Homo sapiens: one gene and its partner. The protein of the gene in region 1 interacts with the protein of each later gene in a biochemical or structural test. Each region holds a gene or a part of one and is shown in the gene's direction. Other genes may lie near its edges.

Region 1 (5,007 bases):
GGACTATATATTCAAATAGAATCCCGTGTGCCAGAGAGTGATGTTGTAGGAATTGTTCCTTTTCATCCTGGTAGGAAGCACTCCTGTCTTTGGGTGAATGCACATTTGCTAAAATGGCGTTTTTTGCATTGTGTTGATTATGAAGTAAAGCCACAGTGAAAATACTATGCTTTTTAAGTGCAAGCCGAACTAGAAGGTGATGATTAACTGGGGTCTTATCTACACTGTAGTACTTAACACTAACATTCAAAGCATGCCCTGTCCTGCTTTGAAATGCCAGTAAAAGAGGACAAAACAGGTAGGACATTCTTGGTTCAGAGTGCCCTGAGAGAAAAGATTGAGTTCCTGTCTGCTGTGGTGTCTGCGCATGCCCACTGCAGTGCCAGGACAGAATCAAGCAAGTCTCTTTATCTCACTTCTAGTCCCCTTTCTTGAGAGCTGTACCCAGAGAGCTGAGGCTTGCCTGGACCTCCCAGCAGCCTCCCAGGAAAGGTCTCTTGCCAATAACAGAGGGGCTTTAGAGAAGAGGAGAGGAGGGGAGGGGCCCTAAGCCAGTACTGGGTACTACGGCTCCTAGGTCCTTGAAGGTACCGCATCTTTTATTTTCTCTGGAGATCTGTCTCTGTCACCCAGGGCCCCAATTTCCTGGAAGAATTGCTCAGTCTCTTGATTTTAGATTTAATACTTGTAAAACCCTATAATGACTGGCACTAGTCAGACAAGTGCTTGTTCTTTTGACAGCATTTATTAAGCACTTACTATGTGTAAGGCACTATGCCTAATGCTGGGGCACAGCAATTACAGGGCACACAAGACAAGTTTATGCCCTAGCTGGAGACATAGCCACTAATCAAATAAAGAGGTATTTCGTTATCTCTATGTATATTTAAGACTCAGCCCAAGAGCTCACCCACCTAGTGTTTGGCAGGTAGGGGGTGGTTAATTTGACTCACAAAGTTCCCTAGTGTCAAGGTTGAACTTGCCCTTTGGGAGTTCAGCATGACAAATATGACTTGCGAAGATATAGAGGCAGACTTCTTTCTGGTGGCTCTTAAGAGACCCCTGTCTTGAAAGAACTGCCACTCTGTAGCAGAAGCTATACTTGCATGACAAAGCTGGGACCCTAAACTCCCTCCTCCTGTTGGATCCCTCTTACAAGAGTTCTTAAAATCTGTGGCAAGCTGCAGCTTAGGGAACATCCTTTGTTGCAGCAAACCTCCCTAGAGTTCAGTACTCCCTAGAGTTCTCTTCCTTCTGTTTTTTTCATAAGAGATATGAGGACCTACGAACAGTGACATTTGTCTAGCCACTTCTAATGCAGACCAATTTGGGGGGATTCATCAGATGCCAGGTGCTGTTTATTGGGGAAACAGCCTTATTCCAGCCATTATTTGTAACACTCAAAGATCTTTTGCCTCTGGCATCAGCTGCTATTGAGTGAGGGCCATTATATGTAATTGAATTCCTAGAACGTGTGGCACCTTTAAGTAGAAGAGGAAAAAATACAACTTAATTTGTCATCCAAGGGCAGGGACTTGTTGGTGCAAACACAGCTGGGCCCTGAGGCCTGGCTCCAGTGAGTGTGGAGGACCAAGGGGACGGGGGCAAAGAGCTCCAGCCTTGCCACCGTAGCCCTCTCGCCAATTGGGAGAGTGGCTTGAGGCTAGGGCGGGGGGCTTCCTGCTGGCCTGTTTGGGCCACCATAGCCACTGTAACCCACACCTGGCATGGCCCTACCAAGCCTGACTCTGGGGACAGGCACAGCTAGGCCTGAGTGGGGGTGGCATGTTTCCTGAAGAGTATCTGTTTTCTCTGGTTCGTCTGCTTTGTCATGGACCCTCTGTTGCATGTTGAGCAATCACTGTCTCCTCTGTCATGGAGCGGACTTGGCCTCATGCTGGCATATGGCATATCAGGGTCTGGCCTTGACTGTTTCTGACACTGGGATGAACAAAAATGTGAAAAGAGAACGAATCCAACTGATTTCTCTCTTCTGTTTGCTTTTCCCTCCTCTCATGCCCACCCCTACCTCCATCTCATCACCATTTAGGATGAATCTCTTCAGCGTCTGCAGAAGGAGTCTGACATCTTACAGAGAACATATGCACACTACTTCGATCTCACAATTATCAACAATGAAATTGATGAGACAATCAGACATCTGGAGGAAGCTGTTGAGCTCGTGTGCACAGCCCCACAGTGGGTCCCTGTCTCCTGGGTCTATTAGGCCTCTCCCCAGATATCTGAGCATAACTGGGAGCACCTCATTTGTGGAAAAGCCTCTTTGTTATCGGCCTTGTGTCAGCAGGTCATGGTCCCTAGAGACTACCTAGTTGTAGTGTGACCTACATTTATAATTATTGTCATGTCCGAATAGATAGGAGGAGAAAAACAATTACACACTAATTTAAAGAGACAGTATCTTTTTTAATCAGTTCTCCTAAACTTTAATAAAATGTATCTTTAAATGTATGTATTATTCAATCCTTTGGAATGTTATATTTTTGGAAATCATAGCTTTTTATTTCCAAGGCCCCTAAAAACTGCACAAAATAGATGCTGCTTTCTATAATCTATTTTAATAATAATAAACAATGATTCTGTTACCTTGACTGGGGGTGGAACACTACATTCTTTTTAGAGTCTGATTTTATGGATTGGAATATTGGGATATCTTTCTTTCCTTTATTTATTTGAAATAATTAGTGTAGTGATTACAAAACAGTCATAAATTTTTAAAGGCCTTTTTTCTCTCTTTTTTTTTTTTTAGAATAGTATTTTTTTTTAAGTCCTTTATGTAACATCCAGATAATGTGATACTGTCTCTTTGAAGCACCCTGTAAACCTTTTAGAGATTTGAAGTTGGGTCTTGACTCTTAATGCATGTGGACAGTCGCGAGCGTTTATGCTGTCGGTGTGTCTGTGTTGGACAAAACAATCTGTAATCTACAGCAAAGTACATTCTACATTCCGTTCATGGGGCACACCCAGGGGAATAAGAATAAAATGCTATTATGACTAAGTTGTAAACCTATGCACATCCCTTGCATTTTGGGCAACTTTATAAAAAAAAAGAAACTGATTTTTATTAATAATAATCATGTAGTGAAATGTGTTTGTAATTTTGTCTCAATTTAATTTGTTGTAAGGTGGGGTGGGGGGAATTGCTGGTTTCACCATTTCAGATCTGTGTTGTCTAAGAGTATTAACGTTTTAATTAAGCAAAGAAATGATTTTTAATCTGTATGTAATTGTTTTAAAGCACCCATTTTAAGAGAAAATACTGTGCAATGAAGAAACCAGTTTAGGCATTTGCTATAAACTGAAATATTCCAAAAGAATCATCTATAACAGCCCTGTAAATTCCTTTAAAATGATAACTAACAGGACAGTTTGACCAATTTTTTTTAAATATACTTCCTTTTATGTGTTCAATAATTAAATGCCTTTGGGTCCTTCATTTCATTATAGATTTGTTCAGGCTTCCAAGCTGATAATCTTTACAATTGTATAATTTGTTAGATGCTCATTGAACCTTTGAAGGCCCAGGAGTGAGTATCAGTTGGCAGGGTGACAAAGTAGCCTGCCAGAGCACAGCTGGACCACGTCTGACTCGCACAGAGCCATGCGCCCAAGGGCCACGGGTGTACTGGAGGCCACCTGTGGTCTCTCCTTCCTCTTGCTGTATCCCTTGGCACAGGGGAATCATCTGTCCTTGTTGCTTTAGAGACATTAACCATCTCATAACTCTTCCATGAAGTCACATTCTTCCAATACAGGAGATTCGGGCTGGGGTTCTCAGACTCTTTGCCAGAGGTCAGTAGAATGTTTTTCATTAGCATGTGAGGGTGTGAAGTGCTTATATTAACCTGTGATCCTTGAAAACATACCATCATTTTTTGCTTCTTGTAGGTTAGATGGCCTTGTCACTTTGTGCCTTGGCAGGATGTGCAGGGTGTGTTCTGAGCTGAACAGCTCCTCTTAAAGGACCAAACAGAGAAGGCATTAGTATACTTCTTTTACATTGTCAACACCATACCCGCCTCCGCCCCCCACCGCCTATTATTAAATGGTGGCGATTTTTTTTTTTCTGATGTTGTTCTTTGCCAGTGACCAGATGAGTCTGCAACTTACTAACAAGGTATTGAGTGAACTACTTCTGTATGGGCCCCACAGTGGGGTGACCAAGCCACCAAACCAGAGATAAGCTCAACAGTGGTCTCACACTAGATAGAGAGAGAAACCTTCAAAGAGTTGGGTAGGGCTGTGTTAGAACTGATTCGAATCTGATAGATGCCAAGGCCAGACAGTCGTTCCTGGTATGGTACTGACCACAATTTCGGGCTCTTAGTGTGAAGGTGCGCACTCTACCTCTTTTCTGGTGAAGCACAAAGACAACTACAACTAACACATGGGAAACAGAAACTTCCCTCCCTCTAGTGGAAACCCCCACGCCCCCACTTGCCCTTTGAGCCCACATCTCCAGAGATGCTGATGATGCCTGTCTTAAGCCATCTGCCATATTTATAAAGGTGGATTAAGCAGAGGAGGAGAAAAGCAATGCCAACTTAAATGTCTGTGGCCCCACAATTCACAAGCACTGTAGCACTCATCCTCAGTGGCTTTATACGTCCTCTGAGAAGCACACAGGCAGGCATCATTCTTGCCATCATTCCGATGGTGAAATCCCTGCATGCAGAACTCATTGACTTCTCAAAGATGTTACCTGTTCCATTCCACTAATACATGTCTTCTCTAAAGCAGTGTCTTTATGACCTAGCTGCATATACTTACATTTCTGAATTCAGAGTAATTTCAGTACATTGCTGCTGCTGCTGCTGCTGCTGCTGCTGCTGCTGCTGCTGCTGCTGCTGCTACTGCTACATTACAATTGTCCACTAAGCAATCAGAGAAAATTGCTAAAAGCTTCTTTACTGCTTCCATTCCATCAGCAGAACCTTTTTTTTTCTTTCTTTCTTTTAAAGACCAGAATGAATGTTTAGAGTA
Region 2 (4,824 bases), on another chromosome or scaffold:
ATACTGTAATACTGTATATTAGTTCAGGTCCTCCAAGAAGGAAACACCAAGAGAAGATACAGGTGTGCCTGTAGAGGAGATAAGGAGGAATCCAGAGGGGACCCATAGAGACCACAGACCTTGCTACAGGTATGACCCCTGTGGAGCAGAGAAGGAAGGAAGTTTGGGTAGAAACAATCTTAGGCTACAGTGCAGCTCCAAGGAAGCTGCACTATTTCATCCAAGGTGATGGAGAATCCTTGAGCACAGTCACCCATCAGAGGAGTCCTGCATTTCCCAGAAATGGGGCTGCCTAGTGTCCCTGCTAGCGTCAGTTATTGGCTAAGAACACTTGTGGGAAGCGTGGCTTCAGCAAGAACATCATGAATACAGAGCCCAGTAGCTTGTTCATCAGTTTTACCCCCTGCAACTGGAGAATGCAGGCTGAGAGGTACATTTTCAAGGGGTCTGGTACACAGTAAATGCTAATAAATACCTGCCATTATGGTTATAAATAACCACCATCACTGTCCTTACTCATGGCAGAGAGTATTTACTAATATCCCCTCCAGTTGGGAGACACTCCCCCCACCTCCACTGCCTCTGATAACAGAAAGCAATACTTCCCTTTAGTCCATGGCCAAAGAACAGATCCATGTGGGCTGTCTTTCACATTTCCTTTGAATGAAGATTTAGTTAACAAAGAACACACAGGTCAGGGACAAGTTTGGTTTCTAAGAGTAATTTGATTTTATTTCCTCGTATGACCCAAGAGAGGAAATGAGCTCAAGGGGTGCTGTCCAGCACTCCATTAGAGGTCAGCCATGTGCAGATTGGTTTTCTTAAATAATTCTCTCTACCACCCCCTCCCCCACCTACCCAATCCTTCCAGAAGAAGTAGAATTGCCGTGGTCACTACTGAAGCAGCTGACCTGCTGGGTGCAGTTATGGGAGAAAAAATGGGAGACCACTAAGCAGTTTCTGATCAAATAAAGATTTTTTAAAAGCCAGAACTTCCCATTATTTTTGCTTAGCTCTTTGGTAACTTCTAATTCCTCATTTTTGTCTCTTCTTAAAAATTATCCTCAAAACCACTTCTGTAGATGAGAATGAAATGTTCGCCCTCTTTACAGGTCAAGAAACAGAGGCACGGTAAAGTTACGCTCATGTTTAAAGTTGCTCCGCTGGTGACAACCTGAATCAGAATCCAAATGTCCCAGCCCTTAGGAGTGTTTAGCCCATTGTGTTTACTCACCCAGGAAATATTTTGTTTTGTTTGGTTTGTGTTTTGTTCTCTCTCTCTTTTTTAAGAGACAGGGTCTCGCTCTATTGCCCAGGCTGTAGTGCAGTGGTGTGATCATAGCTCACTGCAGCCTCGAACTCTGGGGCTCAAGAGATCCTTCCACCTCAGCTTCCTGAGTACCTGGGACTGAAGGCATACATCACTGTGCCCAGATAATTTTTGTTATTTTTTATAGAGACAGGCTCTCGCTATGTTGCCCAGGCCGGTCTGGAACTCCTGGGCTCAAGTGATCCTCCCGCTTTGGCCTCCTAAAGTGCAGAGATTACAGGCACGAGCCACCATACGCAGCCTCACCCAGAAAATATTGATTGAGTACCTACTATGTGCCAGACACTGGGCCTCACTGGAAAAGAGCCCTGTAGGCAGAAGAAACAGTTTGCTCAAAGGCCCTTGGGTGGAAAGGAGAAGTAAGGAGTGGGGTGAGGAGGATGGCATAAGGTTAGGTTGGGATGGAGCAGAAACCCAACACACACGGTCTTAAGGCCACATGAAGGATTTTGAACTCTCCCCTGAGTTTAAAAGGAACCCAGTACACAGTTTTGAGAAGTGGAGTGACAATAATCAGATTTGCATCTTCCCCTTTCTGTGCATACACCCAGCCTCTCTCTAGGGATTGGGGGCAGCCTAAGGTGGGATAGATGGTAAAATGCCAGGCACCACCAGCCATGGCCATCAATTTGACTTATGGGGAGAAAGTGAGCATGCTAAGAACACAGACTCTAGATGCAACATCTGGATTCAATCCCAGCTGTGTGAGCTAGGGCACACTTCTGCCTCTCTGGATCTCAGTTTCTGTTTCTGTAAACTGAGTGGTTGTGGTTCTACTGCCTAGGGTCATGTGGGGATTAAATATGCCTAAGTTGCTCAGTCAAGTGCCTGGTACCAAGCAGATGCTCTAATGCATATTGGTCATTATCAATGTTGATCCCTTTCTGATTTATTCATCAATTCACCCTGATAAAGAAGGGGCCTTTGGGGTCAAGAGGCTGTTCTTATTCATTAAACGTCATCCATAATAGCATGTTGTGTCGCCTCCCAGCTGGCTGAAACCGGACATGGGAAAGAAGGCCAAACACAAGACTCAAATTAAAAAGAAAACCTTGAATCCCGAATTCAATGAGGTAAGGCTGCCCTATTCTTTTTCATGCTCTGGGATATTTGCTGTGTGTTAGAGAGGCACAAATAGCCACATAGCCATTAAATATGTGGCCACATAGCCATTAAATGCAGCCATTTGAAATGATGATGTAGAAAAATATTTGAAAAATATTTGAGAACATGCTAAGTTGGTTTTTGCCCAAAGTTGTAAATGAAAAAGGAAGTGACAATACTGTATGTTCAGCATTACTTAGTTAACAAAAAATTTATACATCACTGTGAACACATGTGGGGGAATGTTGACATGGTTATTCTTGGGTAGTTGGATTACCGGGAATTGGGGGTGGGGGTTCTTCTTTGTTTTAGCAATGAACATAAAATGAATTTTGTAATTAGGCAGAGAAGCTATTTTTTAAAAATCAGATTGTCTGGGAACATATGTACTCAGTCCACTTCAACTGTATTTATTTATTTATTTATTTTTGAGACAGAGTCTCACTCTGTGGCCTAGGCTGGAGTGCAGTGGCGTGATCTTGGCTCACTGCAACCTCCACCTCCCTGGTTCAAGCAATTCTCCTGCCTCAGCTTCCCGAATAGCTGCAATTACAGGTGCCCACCACCATGCCTGGCTAATTTTTGTATTTTTAGTAGAGATGGGGTTTCACCATGTTGGTCAGGCTGGTCTCGAACTCCTGAGCTCAAATGAGCCACCATCTCAGCCTCCCAAAGTGCTGGAATTACAGGTGTGAGCCACCGGGCCCGGCCACTTCAACTACTTTTATTCCTAAGCAATAAAAAAGGGGATGCCCCTTCATAAACTACCAGAGGGGAAGGACTATGTTCATGGCCATTTACCTACAAGGAAACTTGAGCTCTATTAGAAAAACCTCACCAGCCTTCCCAATTTCAAGCAGAGAATTCACTGAAAAGAGGATGACAGTGCTTTGTTACACAGAGTGTTTGTTGGAAGGGGATCACGGGACCTGGGGCAGAGGATCGGCACGGGAAGACCTCCTTGCTCCCAGAATGCCAGCTCAAGGACCTCTCCTTGGCCCATAACCCCTAGGACTCGGCCTCTTACCTCCCAATGCTGTGGGTTCAGAGGGCTCTTACCCACATGTCTTCCTCTGTTGTATTCAGGAGTTTTTCTATGACATCAAACACAGTGACCTGGCAAAGAAGTCACTGGACATTTCAGTCTGGGACTATGACATCGGCAAGTCCAATGATTACATCGGTGAGTGTTCCTAACTCCAGAGAAAACGCCCTCTTCTGTCCTCCCCAGAACAGGAGAGCCTTATCCAGGGCTACAGAGAGTTGAGGTCATTGCTATTCTTTTGGCAACCTCATTGTTCAAATGCTAAATTGAGACCCATGATCTTGACCTTGGTCCAATTTGGGGATGTCTTTACATGAAAAGCCTTACAAAACTTGATTATTTGTTGAACAAATCACCTCCAGTGGGGTAATTAAATCACAGGAGAGATTTGCGTTCTCTGCAGAAAGCAGGGTGCAAAAGAATTCTTAATTTATTTGCATGTCCAGGATAAAATTTTTAATTTTTTAGTTCCTGTTTGAATCATGAGGAAGAAAATCAATTAAAGATGAAGCAGGGGGGTGGGGACTCCAGGCAAGGGACAGAGCCTGAGCTAAGGGGTAAAGACAGGATTGAGCAGGATGATGAACCTTTTTGGAAATAGACAATGAGTTCCCAGAAGTAGTGGGAGATAAGTTTCAGTGAGTAGAATGGTGATTTGTAGAAAGCCTTTAAAAATAGACAGTGAAATTATGACTCAGTGGAACAGTAGGGAGCCATTGCAGGTTCTTGAGGCAGAGAAGGACCGTAATAATAATAACAACAACAGCAGCAACGTTATAACAACTCTCTATAGAGTATGGATCCCAGGTTGCTGGGGGTCACTGCTTGGTGCAGTTTTTTCCCCAACTACACATTTGGGTCTAGAACGACCTCTATTCTGACCACCTGCTCCTATCTTCCCATTTATCCTCCAGGAGGCTGCCAGCTGGGGATCTCTGCCAAGGGAGAGCGCTTAAAACACTGGTACGAGTGTCTGAAAAATAAAGACAAGAAGATAGAGCGCTGGCACCAGCTACAGAATGAGAACCACGTGTCAAGTGATTAGGCTAGTGCCCAGGTCCCCATCTCCATGTCCCGGGTCCCCCCCAGCCTGCTCTAGCTGCCCACCGCACCCTGATCTCTCTTCTCTATGCCTACCTCCCCCCATACCCTGCTGATCTCCCTGAGCCTGCCTTTGAGCCCCCGTCACGTTGGGCACTGCTGCCAAAGACTCCCTCCTCCCTGATGCTGGGATGTGGGCTCTGAATACAGCCCCTCTCTCATCCCTGGGATGGAGCAATGGGGATGGGGTTGGGGAGACGTTTACAAAGAGGTTGATCATTTAATAACCTCTCAGTTTGGGTAA

Evidence for each region. The genes of interacting proteins can lie anywhere in the genome.
Region 2: the proteins of CASK (region 1) and RPH3A form a complex in vitro, tested with the Homo sapiens proteins (one study listed by BioGRID).

What each region holds. Positions count from the first base shown.
Region 1 is NC_000023.11:41,517,640-41,522,646, reverse strand, and holds part of CASK (peripheral plasma membrane protein CASK), read left to right. Parts: intron 1-310; exon of another isoform or gene 311-494; intron 495-2,050; coding exon 2,051-2,227; 3' UTR 2,228-5,007. UniProt on the Homo sapiens protein: Multidomain scaffolding Mg(2+)-independent protein kinase that catalyzes the phosphotransfer from ATP to proteins such as NRXN1, and plays a role in synaptic transmembrane protein anchoring and ion channel trafficking.
Region 2 is NC_000012.12:112,892,257-112,897,080, forward strand, and holds part of RPH3A (rabphilin-3A), read left to right. Parts: intron 1-22; exon of another isoform or gene 23-129; intron 130-2,321; coding exon 2,322-2,403; intron 2,404-3,520; coding exon 3,521-3,617; intron 3,618-4,393; coding exon 4,394-4,524; 3' UTR 4,525-4,824. UniProt on the Homo sapiens protein: Plays an essential role in docking and fusion steps of regulated exocytosis.